Linked DNA regions of Homo sapiens. The protein of the gene in region 4 purifies or fractionates together with the protein of the main gene of each other region. This does not show direct contact. Each region holds a gene or a part of one and is shown on either strand. Other genes may lie near its edges.

Region 1 (5,150 bases), on a different chromosome or scaffold from region 4:
TTTCACTATGTTGGCCAGGCTGATCTCAAACTCCTGGCTTCAGGTGATCCACCAGTCTCAGCCTCCCAAAGTGCTGGGGTTACAGGTGTGAGCCATCGCACCACGCCTAAATATATAAACCTAATCAGAAGTTGTTATAAGTCTTGTGAAGGAAAAGTACACAGGTGTTAAAAAGGGGAGGCTTTCCTGTGGTTAGTTCATCAGGAAAAGTTTCTCTGGCAGTTAAGGGGAGACCTAAAGGAAGAGAAGGAGTAGTCAAAGAATACTCAATTAATAACAAATGCTTTGAATTGTGAGCCGCATCCCTGACGGCTCTCAATACTGTCTACTTACATTATAGTTTTTCATATACATCAAATAGTTAATGTACTCCAGTGTAAGCTTTTTGAGGTCAGGGACCTTATTTAGTGTACTTCATGTGCACATGATAGGCTTTCAGATATTGAAATTACTGAATTAGTGACCATTATTGGTAAATAGCCATTAATATTACCAAAACCTGTCCTCTTGATTTTTGGAGGGTTTTTTTCCTGCTTCAATTAGTGAGTTGCCTGAGTGTAAAGGAGGTTCTTGTAGGTGTCAGAAATAGAACACTGAGAATTGTAGTCCCATGATAGGCTGTGTTATATTTTTTCTTCTGTTTTCAATAATGTATTGTTAGAGATGTGAAAACAATATTTTAATGTTGGTATTTATTAGTAGTAAAACTATATGAGGATACCATTTATTTGGTAAGAAGACCCGTGGAGTTAAAAAATAAATGGCTATGGAGCAAATCAGCCTTTCCTAGGGTTGAGGTAAAAGTTGATTTGTTCCAGCCACCCATACCATAAAACTCCTGATTTTCCTGTTTACTTCTTCCCAGCTTTATGTCTTTACTCTTCTTTGTTCAGCACCGAATCGTTCTCTCTCTTTTCTTCTCACTCATCCATCCCTGCTTTGTCTCTCTTAACTAACCATCTTACACAATTGCAATTATTTGTCATGTTCATATACGTTTTAAAAGCACATAGATTGAAAGTGTTGTCTTTCAAGCTTTAGGGTGTTTTTCGGGGGATGCATTTTTAAGTCCGCTTTTTTATATGTGATTGGTTCTTTACTCATTATAGAAAAGTGTTAACACTCATCAATAAAATACTAGAAACTTTCTCTAAAGACATTCAGGGTGGGCCTATGATAGGGATATTTTGGTTCAAATCCAATTTATTTGCTTTTATTAATTGTGCCATTACTTCATTGATGAGATTGTGTTTTGGCTACATATTTGAGGGGAGGAAATAAATATAAAAAGGTTAAATTGCTTTTTGGCACTTTAAATTGTTCCCCTGAATATTTACTAAGATGGGTAACGTAGATGGTGATCACAAGAATATGAAATAGGCTGGCTGCAGTGGCTCATGCTTGTAATCCCAGCACTGTGGGAGGCCGAGGTAGGCCGATCACCTGAGGTCAGGCCTTTGAGACCAGCCTGGCCAACATGGCAAAACCCTATCTGTACTAAAAATACAAAACTTAGCAGGGCATGGTGGTGCATGCCTGTAATCCCAGCTACTTGAGAGGCTGAAGGAGGGGAATTGCTTGAACCCAGAAGGCAGAGGTTGCAGTGAGCTGAGATCACACCACTGCACTCCAGCCTGCGTGACAGAGTGTGACTCCATCTCAAAAAAAAAAAAAAAAACATGAGACAGAATAAGATACACCCTGAATTAATATATAGTTTCAGTTGTGAAGTTTCATGTATTTAGAAGTCTGTGTACTTGGAACGTTGTAAAACTCTCTAAAGTACAGTCTGATTTTATAGGTTCTGAGTGCAAAAGTAGTTACAAATGCTCGAAGTCCTGGGGCAAAATGCTATGGCATTGTAACTATGTCTTCAAGCACAGAGGTGTCCAGGTGTATTGCACATCTTCATCGCACTGAGCTGCATGGACAGCTGATTTCTGTTGAAAAAGTAAGCTTCCCTAACTGTTTATCAAAGCAAGTCTAATTTGATGGCTAGTTCTCAACTCATAGCTGTTAACAGTAGCAGGGAGTAGAATTTGCAGTGATTTTTAATTTTTATGTATTTGTAGTTTTTACTCTCCTTATATTTTTCCTATCGTTTCCAAATTTTCTGCCATTAGCACACTTCTTATAATCACAAAAATGTAACCATATGTACAAATTGTTTTTCTGGTTCGAACCTTTCAGGTAAAAGGTGATCCCTCTAAGAAAGAAATGAAGAAAGAAAATGATGAAAAGAGTAGTTCAAGAAGTTCTGGAGATAAAAAAAATACGAGTGATAGAAGTAGCAAGTAAGGATTTATTTTTATTTATTTATTTTGATAAGCAGATAGACTTTTTTGGTACATTATGAAGTACTCATTCTGTTTTTTTGTCTGGGGCGGTATGGTCAGGACACAAGCCTCTGTCAAAAAAGAAGAGAAAAGATCGTCTGAGAAATCTGAAAAAAAAGAAAGCAAGGATACTAAGAAAATAGAAGGTAAAGATGAGAAGAATGATAATGGAGCAAGTGGCCAAACATCAGAATCGATTAAAAAAAGTGAAGAAAAGAAGCGAATAAGTATGCTATACATCTTTTCAATCCCTTTCTAATGCATTCTACTACTTAATTTTTACAGTGGAAGGGAAAACCTGAAATTCTAATCCAGATATAAGCTTTGTTGTTAGGTGTCATTGTGGTAGGAAAGGAGGTCTAGTAGGAGTAATTGTCTTCTTTTCTACTCTGGGGAAACAAACAAATGTATTCTTCCAGCTAAGCTCCTTTGCTATTCTGGGCTGACTTAAAATGGTCATTGATTAGTACTATTGAATTAGGATCTTTTGGTATCACTGAAAGTATTTATGTTAGCAGACTGAACTGTTTAAAAAACTCTTTGCATTGAAGTTCTTGTAGAATAAGTAGTTTTTTTATTTCATGTATTGGTGTGTGACTATCAGAATTTAGCATTTTTACATACATATTTTCTTTCTCAATGAAAAATTTTAGACATTGTTTTATATAATTTTTTTCCCTTAGGTTCCAAGAGTCCAGGACATATGGTAATACTAGACCAAACTAAAGGAGATCATTGTAGACCATCAAGAAGAGGAAGATATGAGAAAGTAAGTCTCTGATCAGGATGGTTGTATACTACTTCAGCTGTTTACAAAAGAAGATAATTCTGTTTTTCCATAACCATCTTTGCGTACTTGCATGCTAGCAAACCCAAGAAAAAGGAAATGTTACTAGTCATTTGAACTTTTTAAATGACCTACTAAACTTGAAAAATAAAGCCCCAAAATATTTTAATTTCTAGTGTTCTTCTAATTTTTTTCTACAGATTCATGGAAGAAGTAAGGAAAAGGAGAGAGCTAGTCTAGATAAAAAAAGAGATAAAGACTACAGAAGGAAAGAGATCTTGCCTTTTGAAAAGATGAAGGAACAAAGGTTGAGAGAACATTTAGTTCGTTTTGAAAGGCTGCGACGAGCAATGGAACTTCGAAGGTAGGAAGAGAGTCTGTTTTATACCTGTCTTTAAATATAGGTAAATATTTAACACTAGTTGTAAGCCATATTTCTGGAAATTGTATTCCCACAGAAAACTGTTTGCCACCTTAAAGAAGTTACGGTAGCATCTAATGATTTCTTAAGTTTGCATAGCACTTTACAATTTACAAAGTGCTTTTCCATCTGTTGTCTCCAACTCAACAGTTCTGTAAGGCTAGTTATGCCCATTATACAATTGAAAAAAATGGAGGCCCAGAGAGGCTAAATGACTCTTCCAATGGCCACATGGCTAACAAGTGGCAGAGTCGGGACTCAGACCCAAGTCTTCTGACTCCAAGTCCAATGCTCTTTCCTCAACACCAAAGCTGCTGCCATAAAAAACATGACTTCAAAGGAAAAATTTGAGATAAGATAGTTTCAAAGTAGCTACAGTGTTCAAATACTGTAATCTGAAATTTTAACAAATTTAGCAAAAATTTATTGTTTGCATTAGTGCCTAAGAGAAGGAAGATTTGCCCTGTGAGCCTAATGGTATTCGGATTATATCCCAAAGCAAGCATTCTCTTTAAAACAAACGGAAAATATAAACAAAGCAAGATGTTTCCATTTTTAGTGGCCATATCTCAACAGTTCACGAGTGTCAGTTTACTTTTGTATATCAATTTTTGGATGCCACTTAAAATAGTCTTGTGGGTGTGTTTTATAGTATATTATTTCAAATGTTAAGCTGTCTTGTCCAGGGGTTACTTATCATGGGATTTCATCCATTCATTGACGACAGCGTTAGGAACTACCAGAGATACTTTTAGCAACTTAGATTATTCTGTACAATAATTGACACACAACTTTACTAAAAGGAAGTAATCCTTGTAGCACATAGAACCCATTTTCTCTTTTTTAAGATGAAGTCCAAATGTGCCTAGCTTCCTGTGTATTTAGTTGACAACAGATTGAGAGGAGAGTGGGATTGAGGAGCAACTAGACCAGTGATTCTCAAACCCTATGTGACCAAATTCCCTTTTATATTAAAAAAAGTTGCAATGCCTTTACTCTCCTGAAATGAAATTGATGTATAACATACTTAAGCTATACTAACAATTTCAAAAAAAGAAAAAAATGTAATGGCTTAACTATAATATAAAGGAGAAATAAAAGTAATTTATAATAAAAATATGTATTCCAGATATGAAGGTTTAGGCATGACTTAATGAAGTAGTCAGATGTTTGCATCCCTATTTAGACTCACTGAGAATGGGACAGCTTCAAATACAGACTGACGTTGTATGTCATTTAATATGTTGTATTGGTTAGTAAATACCAGAAGTAGTGTTGACATTATGACATGATTTCTGAAATGGTGAGCAACTCTTGGTAAAAGTCGCAAGAAAGTATAATTTTCCTTCTATTTATATGGAGTTGCATTATTGGAAATTCTAGATTATAGAAATAATATCAAAGCAAACAGTATTTATTAAAAATGGGGTTGAGTTCTAGACTGACATATTATTTTTGCTTAAGGTGTTTGGTTGTTTTTAATGGTGTGCATGTCCGTTGTGGCATCTGAAAGGTATGAGAGGTGTTGGATGGTTCTTGTTGTGTACGACTATCCTCACTATTCCATGCATCAATAAGATACTTAGATACCTTCATCCTCATACAC
Region 2 (4,932 bases), on a different chromosome or scaffold from region 4:
TTTTATATGTAGACCATTAACAAACTACAGTGTGGAGAAGCATTTTTACTCTTTGTGCTACCATCCTCAGAAAAGCTGTAATTTTCATCTTCGAGTATATGATTCTTGACATATTATTCTAGGTAAATTAAAATAAATACAAGTATATACTTTTAGTACTAATCATTTTAATCACTCTGTTGTCTCAACTCCACTTTCAACTTAGAAATGACATTGTCTCTATGTCGTATTTGAAAGATTGGTGGACTCTCCATTAACAAATCATAAGACAAATGTTCACTGCTACATAAGACAGTCTTTATGAGTCTTAATACCTTTTTGTTGGATCGATTTTTTCCACATTTTTTTCTTTCCTTTTCTTCCAAACTTCCCTTTCTCCCTCTCTTCATCCCTTCCCCCTTCCTTATTTTTTGAGATAGGTCTCCTTTTGTCGCCCAGGATGGAGTACAATGGTGTGATCATAGCTCACAGCAGTCTTGCAGCCTCAACCTTAATGTAAATTAAGAATGATACAGTCCTTCTTGAGTCTCTTGAACCCGGAAGGTGGTGGTGGCAGTGAGCAGAGATGGCGCCATTGCACTCCAGCCTAGGCAACAAGAGCGAAACTCCCATCTCAAGAATGATATGCTCCTTTTTTTTTTTTTTTTTTTTTTTGAAAAGGAGCCTTGCTCTGTCGCCCAGGCTGGAGTGCAATGACGCAATCTCAGCTCACTGCAAACTCTGCCTCCCGGGTTCAAGTGATTCTCCTGCCTCAGCCTCCCGAGTAGCTGAGACTACAGGCCCGTGCCACCACGCCCGGCTAATTTTTGTATTTTTAGTAGAGACGGGGTTTCATTGTGTTAGCCAGGATGGTCTTGATCTCCTGACCTTGTGATCCTCCCGCCTCGGCCTCCCAAAGTGCTAGGATTACAGGCGTGAGCCACCACGCCCGGCCTGGAATGTGGTCCTTCTTAAAACTAAATTTATATTTTTTGAAATTCCAAAATTATATCTTTCATGTGATAAAATGAGATAATTGAGAACACATTTGGTGTTGTGGTCTCTTAAGATCTTGCCTAACAAAATAAAAGTACAAAAAAATTGAGCAAATATTTTCCCCTTATTTGTACTTGTCAATGAAGACCCCATGTATGTACTTATATGTTTTTCTTGTTCGTTACTTGCTCCAGTGGTTTGGAAATTTTGGTTATCCTGAGAATTCTCTGGGACCCTGTTAGACATGTAGATTCTTGCTAGGGCATACTTGCTTAAGAGATTCTGGCGTCAGTACCTAATCCTTAAATTACTTTGCAATCATCCAGTTACTATGTAGGTTGAGACCCTACAAGAAGGAATGATTCATTCAATGAGATGTACATCCTTGATCCCAGAAACTTTGGAACTAAGTATTCAGTTTCTTCAATAAACAGAGCACTTCTTGTTTCATAGCTTTTGGGGGTTGGCCTGAACAAATCAACTAAGTATGACCTAGTTTCTATAGCGTTCTGAACAATTTACAGAGTGAATTCCTGGCTGTTCACAAATTGGGAATTGACTGCATTCTTTGGAGAGCCAGGTGTTTCCACCGGGAAACCCCATGACAGGTACTCAGCCCAATTCTGTTTAATGTTTTATTAAACATAGGGGTGGGTTAAACCACTGGGTTTTAAATGAAGCACTTAGAGCTTTTCAACTTGCCCCATAGCTTTGTCTCAGAACCGATCATTCTATTATCATTAGTTTTGAGAATGCCGTGTAAAGAGCAAAGTAACCACTGGTGGTTGCACTCCGGAGCGGGCGAGGACGGCTAGTTCCTGCAGTGCCCAGGCCTGCACGGAAGCGCCCTGGCACAACTCAGCTGAGGATACACGCTTTTTCCCGCGCAGCCGGAGGGCTGAACAGCAAAGCACTCCCCGGGGGAACTGTGTGTCAGCGCAGCCTGGAGAGAGCAGGCCCAGGGGGCAGCTCCACCACAGGAGACAGGACACGCCTCAGTCTGGGCAAATTCCCGGCCTCCTTTGGCTCTAAGCCAGCAGCCGCCGCCCGCGACCTCCTCTCCTCCTCCGTCGTCACCCCGGCCGCCCTGCCAGCCCCGAACTTGCCCGCGCCTGGCCGCGCGGCCCCTCAGCCCACGGGGCTGGCGGCGCGGTTGGGATGGGACCGATGTGGCGCATGCGTGGTGGCGCCACTAGGCGCGGGAGTTGCTGCGGCGGGGACGGTGCTGCGGACGGCCGAGGGCCAGGCCGCTCCGGCCGGGCTCGTGGTGGGGGCAGCCCCAGCGGCGGCGGCGGCGGCGTGGGCTGGCGAGGCCGCGCGGACGGCGCCCGACAGCAGCTGGAGGAGCGGTTTGCCGACCTGGCGGCGAGCCACTTGGAGGCCATCCGTGCGCGGGACGAGTGGGACCGGCAGAACGCGCGGCTGCGTCAGGAGAACGCCCGGCTGCGGCTCGAGAACCGGCGGCTGAAGCGCGAGAACCGCAGCCTCTTCCGTCAGGCTTTGCGGCTCCCCGGCGAAGGCGGCAACGGGACGCCCGCGGAGGCACGCCGGGTCCCTGAAGAGGCCAGCACGAACCGGAGGGCTAGAGACAGCGGCCGAGAGGACGAGCCGGGCAGCCCCAGGGCCCTGAGGGCCCGACTTGAGAAGCTGGAAGCCATGTACCGCCGGGCCCTGCTGCAGCTGCACCTCGAGCAGCGGGGACCACGTCCGAGCGGGGACAAGGAGGAGCAGCCTCTACAGGAACCCGACTCCGGCCTCCGCTCCCGGGACTCGGAGCCCTCTGGGCCCTGGCTGTAGCCGAGGCCGCAGCCGGTGAGAGGCGGAGCCTCGAGCGGGCCCCTCCTCCTCCGTTCCCAGCTACCCCCGACCTCGCGCACGCCCTGGCCCGCTCCCTGCCCGCGGATACCTTGGACTACGGTGCCTTCCCGCCCCCACCAGTGGACACTTCCGGGTGGCGCTTGGCCATCCGCTTGGTGGAGGTCGAGTGGGTGCAAGGGCCCTCAGGACCTCCCACATGTACAGTTCCCCTGCCTCTTGCCCCGGCTAGTTTCCCTGGAGAGAGGCCTAGCCAACAACGAAGGGACGGATTTTAAAACAGCGAGAACTGGGTGCCAAGAAACACTTCATATTCCCTGAACTTTTCTGGATGTTGTGCGAACCTGTTGTATTTTTTTTTTTCCTGTATTTTGGTTCTGAGGGATGAGTAATGTGTTTTTAGTTGGTTGAGTTTATCCATTCTTCAATCCCCTAAAGCCTTCAGCTATTCTTTCATATGTGGCCAACATTTTAAGTACAGTGTTTGCTTTTATAAGTCGGTGTTACTTGGATGTCCTATAAAATACCCACTTTTTATAAAGATGATATTTATAACCTAGGAACTCATGCCTGTCTTGGCTGCAGTCCCTGTACATCTAATATATACTGATTTGTTTGCCCCCAGAGAATTTTTAAGGTATCTGCCTATATCGTGATCTTTTGAAATGGTAAATAAATCTGGTGCATTAAAAATTATCTGAAAGGTTGCGGCGAGTATTATTTGAAGTGTGTTACATTTTTATATTTTTAAAAAGATACCTTTATGAATATACTAATTTAAATCTGGTTTTAGTTGTCCTTAGTAAACTATCATGTTCTTTTAGCTTCATGTAACAGTGATCTTTTAAAATAATCTAAAGATTAGGTAGTCTAAAAGTTATTTTAATCTTTAATGTTCAATTAGCTTAATTAGTACGTAGATAATTTGCCTTATTTTGACTAAGGACTTTTAAGAAATTATAAATTACTTGTATATCAAAAGTTCCCCTAACAAAGTAATTTAAGTCTCAGTTGTTATTTCAATGGCACAAAAAAGTGACTAGTTTAGCAATAAATGTCCTAAAATTACTTTTATTGCGCTTCGTTAATAACACTTTTGCCAACTAAGTAATGAAGAGGATACCATTGTGCCTGATAAAAAAATCATAGGTCCAAGAGTGTTTCAATGATGGAAAACATTTCAGGGGAAAAAATCATGAATAGAATTGTCAAGGGAATAAAATATACTAGTTATGGCATAGTCCAAAAGTATTAAATATTATATATTACAAAACAATGTTTCAGTCGTGTCCGTGTGAAGAGACCACCAAACAGGCTTTTTGTGAGCAACAAGGCTGTTTATTTCACCTGGGTGCAGGCGGGCTGAGTCCGAAAAGAGTCAGTGAAGGGAGATAGGGGTGGGGCCGTTTTATAAGTTTTGGGTAGGTAAAGGAAAATTACAGTCAAAGGGGGGTTGTTCTCTGGCAGGCAGGAGTGGGGGGGTCACGAGGTGCTCAGCAGGGGAGCTTTTGAGCCAGGATGAGCCAGGAGAAGGAATTTCACAAGATAATGTCATCAGTTAAGGCAGGAACAGGCCATTTTTCACTTGTTGTGTGGTGGAATGTCGTCAGTTAAGGAAAGAACCAGCCATCTGGATGTGTACATGTGGGTCACAGGGGACATGATGGCTTAGCTTGGGCTCAGAGGCCTGACACAATGTACCAGGAAAACAAGTTTTGTGATTTTTCAAGTTCTGGGTTATGAAGACACTATATTTTGCTTAAAGGTAATTGATATTCAGATGTGAATATTAGAATCTTCCCCTATGGCCAAAAAATATAAGGAACTTGTTGAGAAGAGGTAGGTATATGAAAATAAATTATATTCCCCTTCACTTCATTTTCTAAGAATGAAAGAAATACAGTGATGTACTGCCTAACCAACATTTCAGTCAGGAATGCGCTGCTTATATGATGATGGTCCCGTAAGATTATAATACTGTTATTTTTATTGTAGCTTTTCTATGTGTAGACACGTTTAAATACACAACTACCATTGCGTTGTAATTGCCGGCAGTATTCAGTAGAATGACATGTTTCCAAATTTGTAGCCTAGTAGGAATAGGCTCTACCATATAGCCTAGGTATGTAGTAAGCTATACCT
Region 3 (5,150 bases), on a different chromosome or scaffold from region 4:
GATGGTGGTGATGGTTATACAACAATGTGAATATACTTAATGCCACCGGGGACAGGCGTGGTGGCTCACACCTATAATCTCAGTACTTTGGGAGGCCAAGGGTGGTGGGTCACTTGAGGTCAGGAGTTCAAGACCAGCCTGGCCAAGATGGTGAAACCCTGTCTCTACTAAAAATACAAAAATTAGCTGGGTGTGGTGGCAGGCGCACGCCTGTAATCCCAGCTACTCAGGAGGCTGAGGCAGAACTGCTTGCACCCGGGAGGCAGAGGTTGCAGTGGGCTGAGATCACGCTACTGCGCTACAGCCTTGGTGACAGAGCGAGACTCCATCTCAAAAAAATATATATACTTAATGCCACTGAACTGTACATTTAAAAATGGTTAAATTGGTAAATTTTATGTTAGGTGTATTTTACCACAATTTTAAGAAACAATAATAATAAAAAGAAGGGTATCTCCCTGTCTTCTCAGAAGGCCTAGGTGCTTTGGCTCCAAAATTAACTTCCTACTTGTAAAAAGGCAGAGTTTTCCTTTTCCTTTGATTAACGACAATTAGGATGTATGTAATAGTTTGTATCTGCCAGGCTGTATCAAAGGGTGACACTTCTTTTTGGCTTTCGCAATCTCTTTAGCACACACTGCTTGTGATGTGATCACAGTCTGGTTCAATGGTTATTCAATAATACAGGTTAGGTGTCCTTTACTGAAACACTTAAGACAAGAAGTGTTTTGGATTTCAGGCTTTTTCAAGTTTTGGAATATTTGTTATTATGCTTACCAGTTGAACATTCTAAATTCAAAAATCAAAAATCCAAAATGCTCCAGTGAGCATTTCCTTTGTGCATCATGCTGGTGCTCAAAAAGTTTTGAATTTTGGAGCATTTCAGATTTGGGATGTTCGAATTATAAAACTGCTTGATTTTTCCCTCTAAAAATATTAATAATAATAAAGGAGTGATGTCATAAAAGAAATGCAAATTAAACTTTACAAACTTTAAAAATAAAAAAATACAATGATAAAAGGAAGAAACACACACATTATTTGTATTCAGAATCTATTTAGCCTACTCTAGTAATCTAATGACTCAGCTAAATCCTAGTAATATCATTCTTATTAAAATACCATTCCAAAATCTAAAACATAAAATTTCAATTTTCATAATTTAGGAAAAAGAACCACAGGTTGATACTATTTATTTCAAGATAGTAACACTTGCAAACTCTTCATAGGTCCAGGAAATTAAAACACCTCATCCATGGAGTCTAGTGACCCCCTCCAACAGTCTGGGCTGGCTTGTTACTACTATTCATAAATGTGCTCTACCTCAGAGGATGAATGATGTACTTCAGACCTGTGAAGTCAACCCTCCAGCAATAAACCCTCTAGTATACTTTCCTGCACTAACCAGTAAAACACCAACATGGTAAATTCATCCTTTCAAGAAAGTTAATTGATTCCAGAGACAACTGAGAAATGCCAAATGACTGGCGCATAAAAGTACCGTTTCTAAATCACAGATCCTAAACTCCATAATGCAGATTGACCATCACCTCTACAAATACTGCAGTGGGTCAAGTTCAACTCTTTTACACTGTCCCCTAAGATGCCTAGAAACAATGTGTGATAAAGCCAGGTGTAACAAGAGGAAAGGTGGCTAAATGCAGCCCATTTCCTGAAGCAGTCACCCATTTTATGCCCTCAACACATCTCCTAAGTTAAGAAGCATAAAAGGTTTACTCAAAGATAAAAGCTCTGCACCAGGTGGCCAAGCTGACACCAGTGATTTTGGAATTAACTCTAGGGGGACTTTAAAACTTCTGCTTCCTACCATCTTTCTGCCATCACACTTCCTTGCCTGTAACTGGTGATTCATATCCATTTATCAAATATTTTCTGAGCATGTACTACACACCAAGCATCGCTCTAAGAGCTGGATAACAGGCAAGGTCTTCATCAGATTTACTTCTAGAGAAAACATAAAAATAAGCAAAAATAGGGCCAGGCATAGTGGCTAATGCCTGTAATCCCAGCACTTTGGGAGGCCAGGGCGGGTGGATCACGAGGTCAGGAGTCCGAGACCAGCCTGGCCAACATAGTGAAACCCTGTCTCTACTAAAAATACAAAAATTAGCTGGGCATGGCGTGCCTGTAATCCCAGCTACTTGGGAGGCTGAGGCAGGACAATCACTTGAACCTGGGAGGTGGAGGTTGCAGTCAGCTGAGATTGTGTCACTGCACTCCAGGTTGGGCAACAGAGTGAGACTTCATCTCAAAAAAAAGCGAAAAGGAAATAAACGATGAACTATATGGAGACATTTAGATAATTTAAGAATATTTTTATCTGAACTGTGATTCATTTAAATGCCTGTTTTATTTAGAAAATTCTGCCTATAAATCTACTGGAAAGTAGTCTAAGTTTTCAAATCCTAAAATCTCTCTTCTTCATGTTACGCGATATTTGACATTTATTCCTATGGTGTAGTGCTTATTAAGGTTGGAATGTGTAATATGTGTTAATTAGTTTCTTCCTATTCATATAAATTTCAGAAAACTAAAATGAAGAACAATGTCGATCTAAACATGTTAGACATAGGAGGAAGTATACCTGCGTGTATTTTGATTCAGAAAATTAAGTTGTAGTTTTGATTACTTTCTTCCTGGTGTACTTGGACATCTCTATCGCAAACATTTATATGACTTTACAAAGGCATAAAGCTTATAATTCTTTGATTTGCTCATACCAAGATTTCCTTACCTTGGCACTACTGGTATTTTAGGCCACATTATTCTTTGCTATGGGGGCTGTTCTGTGCACTGTAGAATGTTTGGCAGCATCCTTGGCCTCCACCCAATAGATGCCTTCAGTTAACATCCTCCCCCAGCTGTGACAACCAAAAATGCCTCCAGGCACTGCCAAATGTCCCCTGCCAAATGTCTCAACTGTCAACCCTACTTGAGAGCCACTCACAGGTCTTCACTGAGTAAACATATTGTTCTACAGTATTAAAGAAAGTTCCAAACAAGAAAAAAAGGATTTAAATGAACCTCCTCAACCCAGAGGCTATAGGCTCCCTGAAGGTTTCCTTCCTTTCCTGTTCTGTTCACTCCTCCAGGCCTGGGCATTAACAGGTGCTCAAACATTTGCTGAAAGGAGAATCAATCACCATTGGGAACCAGTCAGAAAAGAGAGTATGAGAAATTTAAGATTAAAAAAACAAAACAAAACTTAAGTAATGGCCATTGATCCAGATTTTGAAATAATTTAATTTGTCTGGCTATATAATGGAATGCAGCAAATATTCTGATTAGAGTTGAGTGCCTATGCTAAGCATAATGGGGTACAAGAGGAGTAAAACAGTCCCTGGCCTCAAGGAGCCTACGGGTGGCTGGGGGAGGTAAATATGCAGTTATGCAGGTAGGTGCAATACAACAGACTAGAATGTCCACTGCAAACATACACCATGCTGTGTGTGTATTCCCAGTCCACTTTTTCAAATATCAAGAGATTCCATGAAGAAGGCTGGCATTTGACATGGGCTTTGAAGTGTAAGTAAAATTTTGATGAGCAAAAGTAGGACACAGTACAGTAGTTAAACAAGAGGGAATGACATAAGCAGAAACTGGATATTTCTTGGGGAAATAGTGACCAGTTGGGTTGGGAACATTTTAAAAAGTACAGTAGAGGGATTGTGAAACATTAAGTAAGGTCAAATGAGTTCAGGTCGCAGGAAGGTCTACAAGTCTGAATAAGGAATTTGGACTTAATGGTTTTGTTCAAGTCCCAACAGGAGAGTGACCTCCCTGAAGATGTGGCCGTCTACCCTGCCAAAGCTGTGCAAGATTAGTTCCACTGGGGCGCGGGGGTAGGTGCAGAGGCCATTCTTACTGCTACCCACAGTAATACAAAAGTGTAATGACATGGAATTTACCTATAGTATATGCCTTGCATTCTATTTTTCATTCTATTTTACTCCGTTATTTTTAAGTAATGGCAAACATCCAATAATTTGGTTTCACAACCCACTGAAGGGTTTGCAAAGCATTTCTTCGACCTTTTGGATAAATATGGTGAATTCAAATGTTGGGGGTACTGGAAAAAAGGAAGAGTATAACAGTTAAGTAGGAGACTACTGAGCCAGAATTGGCCTGGTGTGTCATTATTCTAGGGACTGGGAGGATGGGATGCTGGAATACCAAGCATGACTCTATGGTGGTAGAGGGTGTAACTCTGAAGTGAATGATCATGAAGTTCAAGCTAGTTACAGCTAAAAAGGAAGCCAACAGAATGGGAAAAGAGAAATGGCGGAAGGCAAGCAGGGGACAGACGGTGGGAGCGGCAAGGAGTGACAGGGACACAGCGTTCAGAAGTGTTAAAGGTGGGGTCACTTTTCTCACTAATTATACGGTCCAAGCTCTGGAGTATCTAAAGTGCAATTAGAAATTCACTCCAGTTGCAGAATCAGGATGCCAGATGAGAGAGGTGAAGAGTCAGTGTCTGTGTTGATGGGACACAGTATAAATAATATATAAGAATGTAAAACCAGGTGCTGAAGTGTTTGAGGACAGTGAGGCTGTGCCTTGGAAATGGTGAGATGTCAAATAAACATGTGGGTTAGCACTCACCTCAAAATATGTAATATTGAGAAGTATATAATGAAGAATATACTATGGAAGTGGCCAAGAGGATTGTGGCATTTAAGGAAACATCATATTGCAGTAACCCCAGGAAATGGAAGCATTTTGATCATTGAAAAAGGTTCAAGGAGGCAGACAGGAAAAGACAGAGTGGTTTTTGATAGGTTTAATTTTAAAGTAAAAAAAAAAAAAAGGAAGAGATTTAGATGACCATGATAATTGTTGATAAAGATCAGTGCTCAAATAACAAATTGGTGGCACAAGAGCTGAAGCTAACTTAGAACCAAGTTTTCCTTCGCTTGGCATTTTTAAAATGGAATAATTTTTTTAAAAATCTGGGTTTCTGGCTTTCTTGCAAAGTCTGAAGTTCTGGTAATGTTGACTCTATGGTCCTACGTGGCTTTTAAAATGTGCATACCTTTAGCTCTACTGTGTGTATATATCATGTGTATACCATCTGTCGGGGTTGGATAAATTATGGAATACTATTTAGGGACTGAAAAGACTTAGAGCTC
Region 4 (5,150 bases):
ACTGTGATTTTAGATACATTATTATTTGGCTCTCAAAGGAACCAGTAGTATATGAAATGCAGTGTATGTGTGAGATACTGGAAAATACAGACATAGAAGGTAAACTTGAACATGTATGGTAAATAAAGTGTTCTACTGTTAAACAAATCTGCGTAACTTCCCCTAATATCTAAACAGTGGGGAATCTGAATGCGTAATATCCGTAAAGAGTACAACCTCCAATGAGATACCAAAATGTTTTAAGTATTTTTATTTTTCAAGATATGTTAAATAATTGGATATGTTTTAAAGGGTGCCTTCAAAAATTACGTTTCTTTTTAAGAGACGGGGTCTCACTATGTTGCCCAAGCTGGAGTGTAGTGGCTATTCACAGGTGTGATCATTGTGCACTATAGCCTTAAACTCCTGGGCTCAAGCCATCCTCCTGCCTCAGCCTCCCAAGTAGGTGGGACAACAGGTATGTATCACTGCACCTGGCAAAAATTACCTTTTAATAAAGAAAAAATTATAATGTTCTATTTATCATTTTTCTCATACGCATCACCTTAAATAGAAAATCTCAACGGCTAGCAAGTCTAACCTTTTCTATTTGCTAACATTTGAACGACCACTACTGCATGAAAATGACCCTATATGGACTGTAAGTGAAGTATTACCTGGTAACTGAAGTAAGTATTTATAGGGTTCTAGAAGAATTCTTTGGACTGTTTCTTGAGTCTTCTCCATTGGATTTAAACTTCAAAGCTAATCTGTCAAAAAGGAGAAACATAAAGATCACATGAAACTAATCATCTTTCAGTGTCAAACTGCAAAGGAATTTGTATTGCAGGGTGTTTGTGAAAAGACACCTAGTCTGGTTTAAAAAGAAGATTCTGTTGCTGGGCACGGTAGTTCACGCCTGTAATCCCAGCACTTTGGGAGGCTGAGGCGGGCGGATAGCTTAAGCCCAGGAGTTCGAGACCAGCCTGGGCAACATGGCAAAACCTTGTCTCTACTAAAAATATGAAAAATTAGCTGAGGTGGGTAGATCATGAGGTCAGGAGTTCGAGACCAGCCTTCACACCATCTCTACTAAAACTACAAAGATTAGCCGAGCATGGTGGTGTGTGCCTGTAGTTCTGGCTACTTGGGAGGCTGAGGCAGGAGAACTGCTTGAACCCGGGAGGCAGAGGTTGCAGTGAGCTGAGATCACACCACTGCACTCCAGCCTGGGCGAAAGAGTGACTCCAGTCTCAAAAAAACAAAGCAAGATTCTACAGCTATGAAGCCTTGAAAACATGTTAAGTGAAAGAAGCCAATCTCAAGAGACTACATATTGTATGATTCCATTTATACGAAATGTTCAGAATAAGCCAATCTACAGAGAAAGAAAGTAGATTAGTGGTTAGGAACAGGGACTAATTGCTAATGAGTACAGGGTTTCTTTTCGCAGGGATCAAAATGTTATAAAATTAAATTGTGATGGTTGCACAGCCCTGTGAATACACTAAAAACTGCTGAAATGTACACTTTAAATGGGTGGTATGTAAATTATATCTCAATTAGAAAATTCTTCATTCAAGTGATTATATTGGTCAAAGTGTTGTCTTGGTTTTTAAGTTGTTTTCTTAGTCACATAACTTATATTAAGCTTTTCCTATTTTAATCAACCACAAAAGGCTTAATTTGTTGACGGCAAATGTCAAAACACATCCAAAGAATTGGAAAGATACCTCTGTATTTAACTGATTACACTAATTAGTAAACATATCCTTTTTTAAATGAGCACTAAGATGAGTATGTTTTATGTATTTAAAATTTAAAGGGATTCTCCTCGTCCCCCTAGTAGTTTCTCTACAATCAATCCATTTCAGAGATTTCTGATTTAAAATACGCATTAACTCAAATGCATATATTTATTAAACATATTCCCCTTTATACTGAAATCTGTCTTATTTCAGTATTTCCTAGAATAACACTCATGGTCTTCCTAGGGTCTCCCTGTACTGTTGAATCTCTACTTTATTTCTTTGTATCTGTTTCTATTATTACTTGTCCTCATATTAGGAATCTAACTGCTCTAGCATCTTTGGCACATTTTGGGAAGTTTATTACTTTTATCCTCTTTCTTTTGCTTCTTGGGACTATGATTTAGTCTTTAGAATCCTGAGCCCACTTCTAACCAACTTTTCTACAACAAAAAGGCTAAATGTAATATGGCATCTAATGGCAGTTTGTGGTTAGGGCTGTTCAATGAGTTGCACATCATTGGATTTTGGAATTGGAAACCACTTTAGAAAGTTATCTCAGTATGCCAGAAGATAAAGCACAAGAATATATTTGCTTGAGTGAGGGCCACTTTCTTTTGAATGAAGAAAATGAAGTTCAGTTCATGTACTTTGTGTTATTCTGATTGCTCAAAGGTCCTTTTGTTTTTTTTTTTTGAGACGGAGTTTTGCTCGTTGCCCAGGCTGGAGTGCAGTGGCGCAATCTTGGCTCACTGCAACCTCCACCTCCCGGGTTCAAGTGATTCCCCTGCCTCAGCCTCCCGAATAGCAGGGATTACAGGTTCTTGCCACCACGCCCAGCTAATTTTTTGAATTTTTAGTAGAGATGGGGTTTCACTATGTTGGCCAGGCTGGTCTCAAAACTCCTGACCTCAGGCGATCCACCCGCCTCAGCCTCCCAAAGTGTTGGAATTGCAGGTGTTAGCTACTGTGCCCGGCCTGATCCTTTTTTTCTAAGTCTGGGCCAGAGACTTAGAAATCTTCAATTTAAATATGCATCTTGTATGATTCTGATACAGCTGCTTGAGAATGTTAGGGGAACTGGAAATAGGTTGCTTACATGGTATCACACCACATCACAACTAAGGGGGTGTGGGCTACTGTTATTTATTGTAACAGTGAGGATGTGTTCCTTTTTTTTTTTTTTTTTTTTTTTTGAGACGGAGTCTCACTCTGTCGCCCAGGCTGGAGTGCAGTGGCACGATCTCGGCTCACTGCAACCTCTGCCTCCTGGGCTCAAGCAATTCTCCTGACTCAGCCTTCTGAGTAGCTGGGACTACAGGTGCCCACCACCACGCCCAGCTAATTTTTGTATTTTAGTAGAGACGGGGTTTCACCAGTGTTCCTCGATTTCTAAATCAGCCCTAGTAACTTCATAATGTTAAGTAATAAAAGTCATCTTCTATAGCCCAGTCACCTGATACTATGATCTGATCATTGATACTCTCAGGGGTAAGGCAATTCTAGTACTGTAACTTCTTGCTGGCATTAAATTTAAAAATGTAAAATATACTTAGGAGCAGAATCTGACTTTTGTGGATTTATATTATAAATTAATCCACCAAAGACAAGACTTTTGCACATATTTCAGTAAATAAACACACTGATTCATATACATGCAGCCAAGCAAATCCAAAGATCCTGAGTAAATACCAACAACGTGCCACAAAAGTAAAATTTCCAAAATCTTGCACTATGTGTTTATTACAGCACTATTCACAATAGTAAAGATATGGAATCAACCTAAGTGTCCATCAGCAGATGACTGAATAAAGAAAATGTGGTATATATACAACGAATGATTACTCAGCCATTAAAACAAAATGAAATCATGTCATTTGCAGCAAAATGGATGGATAGCCCTTACCTTAAGTGTAACAAGTCAGACATAAAAGACAAATAGTACATCTTCTCAATTATAAATGGGAGCTAGATAATGTGTATACATGGACATGGAGTGTGGAATGATAGACAATGGAGATTCCAAAGGGTGAGAAGGTGGGAAGGAGGTGGATGATGAAAGATTACTTAATGGGTACAACGTGATTACATGGGTGATGGACCCCCTAAAAGTCCTGACTTCACTACAATGCAATCTATGCATGTGATAAAACTACACTTGCACCCCATAAATTTATACAAGTAAGAATAAACAAATAAAAAACCCTCCAAACCAAAATCTAATTATTAGTGCTAGCATTCCACTTTTCCAGCACAATTACGAGTGTAGAAGTGCTGAGACTACCCAATTTGGTGACAATCAGGTATTTAATGTTCCTGTTTTGTAGCAGTCAATGAATACAAGGGTAAAATGGTTTGAACCACATTGTCTCTGTCATGCAGTTGTTTTTCTGCTGTGAAATGAGACGTATAATATGGCAACAGGAGAAAAGAATAAAACTTCTACATATGTATGCACTGTTAGGCAGTTGGTAAGCACATGATAATGGGTGGCTGAAATAATAACACACACATATAACCATCAACTGTGCAAGTGCTTTGATGCTTCCCCATACTGTAAACCATCTCATGGGTCACAGAAACCTTTTGAGAATATGATGAAAGCTATGAATCTTCTAAAAAAAAAAAAAAAAGCCCGGTGTATGTGTTAATAAGTTGCAACACAAATGTATACACTGCCACAAAGACTTACAACATACAAATTCTCAGAGATCATATAGTCCCTGAATGTTTACACGTACCTCAGATTAAGATTCCCAGCTATGGAATATCTTTACCCTTTAATGCCAAGCAGACAAATATTCGTGTTTGTGTTATAACAAGCTAAGACATAAATTCCACTAGCTTAACTCTTTATTGAAGGCAGATTACAAATGAAAATTAAAGCACAAAACTAGTGTATAGTTCAGGTTACTCTTCAGGATTGAAAGGCATATTTTTTTGTAGTCTGTTCTTATCTATATGAAACAATCATAAAAAAGATCAGCACTCCACCAAAAGAAATCATTTTAACAACATGAATTCAAAGAGAAACATCCCATATGGAAAATTTCTACATCCATCTTGACTAACAATTAATACCAAAGACGTCGCAAGGAAAAAAAGGCTCATAAAGAATCAAGTAAGCGAAATAATCAACATACCTATTAGGCAAAAACCTATTTAGTTAGGTAACCTATTATGCAAATACCTATTTAGGTAACCTATTACCTATACTATTTGATCTCTGACACGTGACCTTATTATCAGGGATTGAAGTAAGAAAAGAAGATGCAAAACAGGAAGAATAATGGCTTAGCTAAAAGATTATTATCGAACATCATTAAAAGTAGAATTAAAAAAGGATCTCATATACTTCTCTATTTAAATGTTAGTATCTATCTTTTCTCAACTACAAGTTGGGAGCAAGAATCACGTTTGTAT

What was found. The genes of interacting proteins can lie anywhere in the genome.
Region 1: the proteins of GGPS1 (region 4) and SLTM purify together in Homo sapiens (affinity purification with mass spectrometry; 2 studies listed by BioGRID and IntAct, with this or other methods). This does not show direct contact.
Region 2: the proteins of GGPS1 (region 4) and TUSC1 purify together in Homo sapiens (affinity purification with mass spectrometry; 3 studies listed by BioGRID and IntAct, with this or other methods). This does not show direct contact.
Region 3: the proteins of GGPS1 (region 4) and FAM120A purify together in Homo sapiens (affinity purification with mass spectrometry; 3 studies listed by BioGRID and IntAct, with this or other methods). This does not show direct contact.

What each region holds. Positions count from the first base shown.
Region 1 is NC_000015.10:58,891,234-58,896,383, reverse strand, and holds part of SLTM (SAFB-like transcription modulator), read left to right. Parts: intron 1-1,801; coding exon 1,802-1,951; intron 1,952-2,190; coding exon 2,191-2,294; intron 2,295-2,396; coding exon 2,397-2,563; intron 2,564-3,019; coding exon 3,020-3,105; intron 3,106-3,323; coding exon 3,324-3,487; intron 3,488-5,150. UniProt on the Homo sapiens protein: When overexpressed, acts as a general inhibitor of transcription that eventually leads to apoptosis.
Region 2 is NC_000009.12:25,675,523-25,680,454, reverse strand, and holds TUSC1 (tumor suppressor candidate gene 1 protein), read left to right. Parts: upstream 1-2,010; 5' UTR 2,011-2,142; coding exon 2,143-2,772; 3' UTR 2,773-3,486; downstream 3,487-4,932.
Region 3 is NC_000009.12:93,457,481-93,462,630, reverse strand, and holds part of FAM120A (constitutive coactivator of PPAR-gamma-like protein 1), read right to left. Parts: intron 1-5,150. UniProt on the Homo sapiens protein: Component of the oxidative stress-induced survival signaling. May regulate the activation of SRC family protein kinases. May act as a scaffolding protein enabling SRC family protein kinases to phosphorylate and activate PI3-kinase.
Region 4 is NC_000001.11:235,330,841-235,335,990, reverse strand, and holds part of GGPS1 (geranylgeranyl pyrophosphate synthase), read right to left. Parts: intron 750-5,150; 5' UTR 727-749; coding exon 657-726; intron 1-656. UniProt on the Homo sapiens protein: Catalyzes the trans-addition of the three molecules of IPP onto DMAPP to form geranylgeranyl pyrophosphate, an important precursor of carotenoids and geranylated proteins.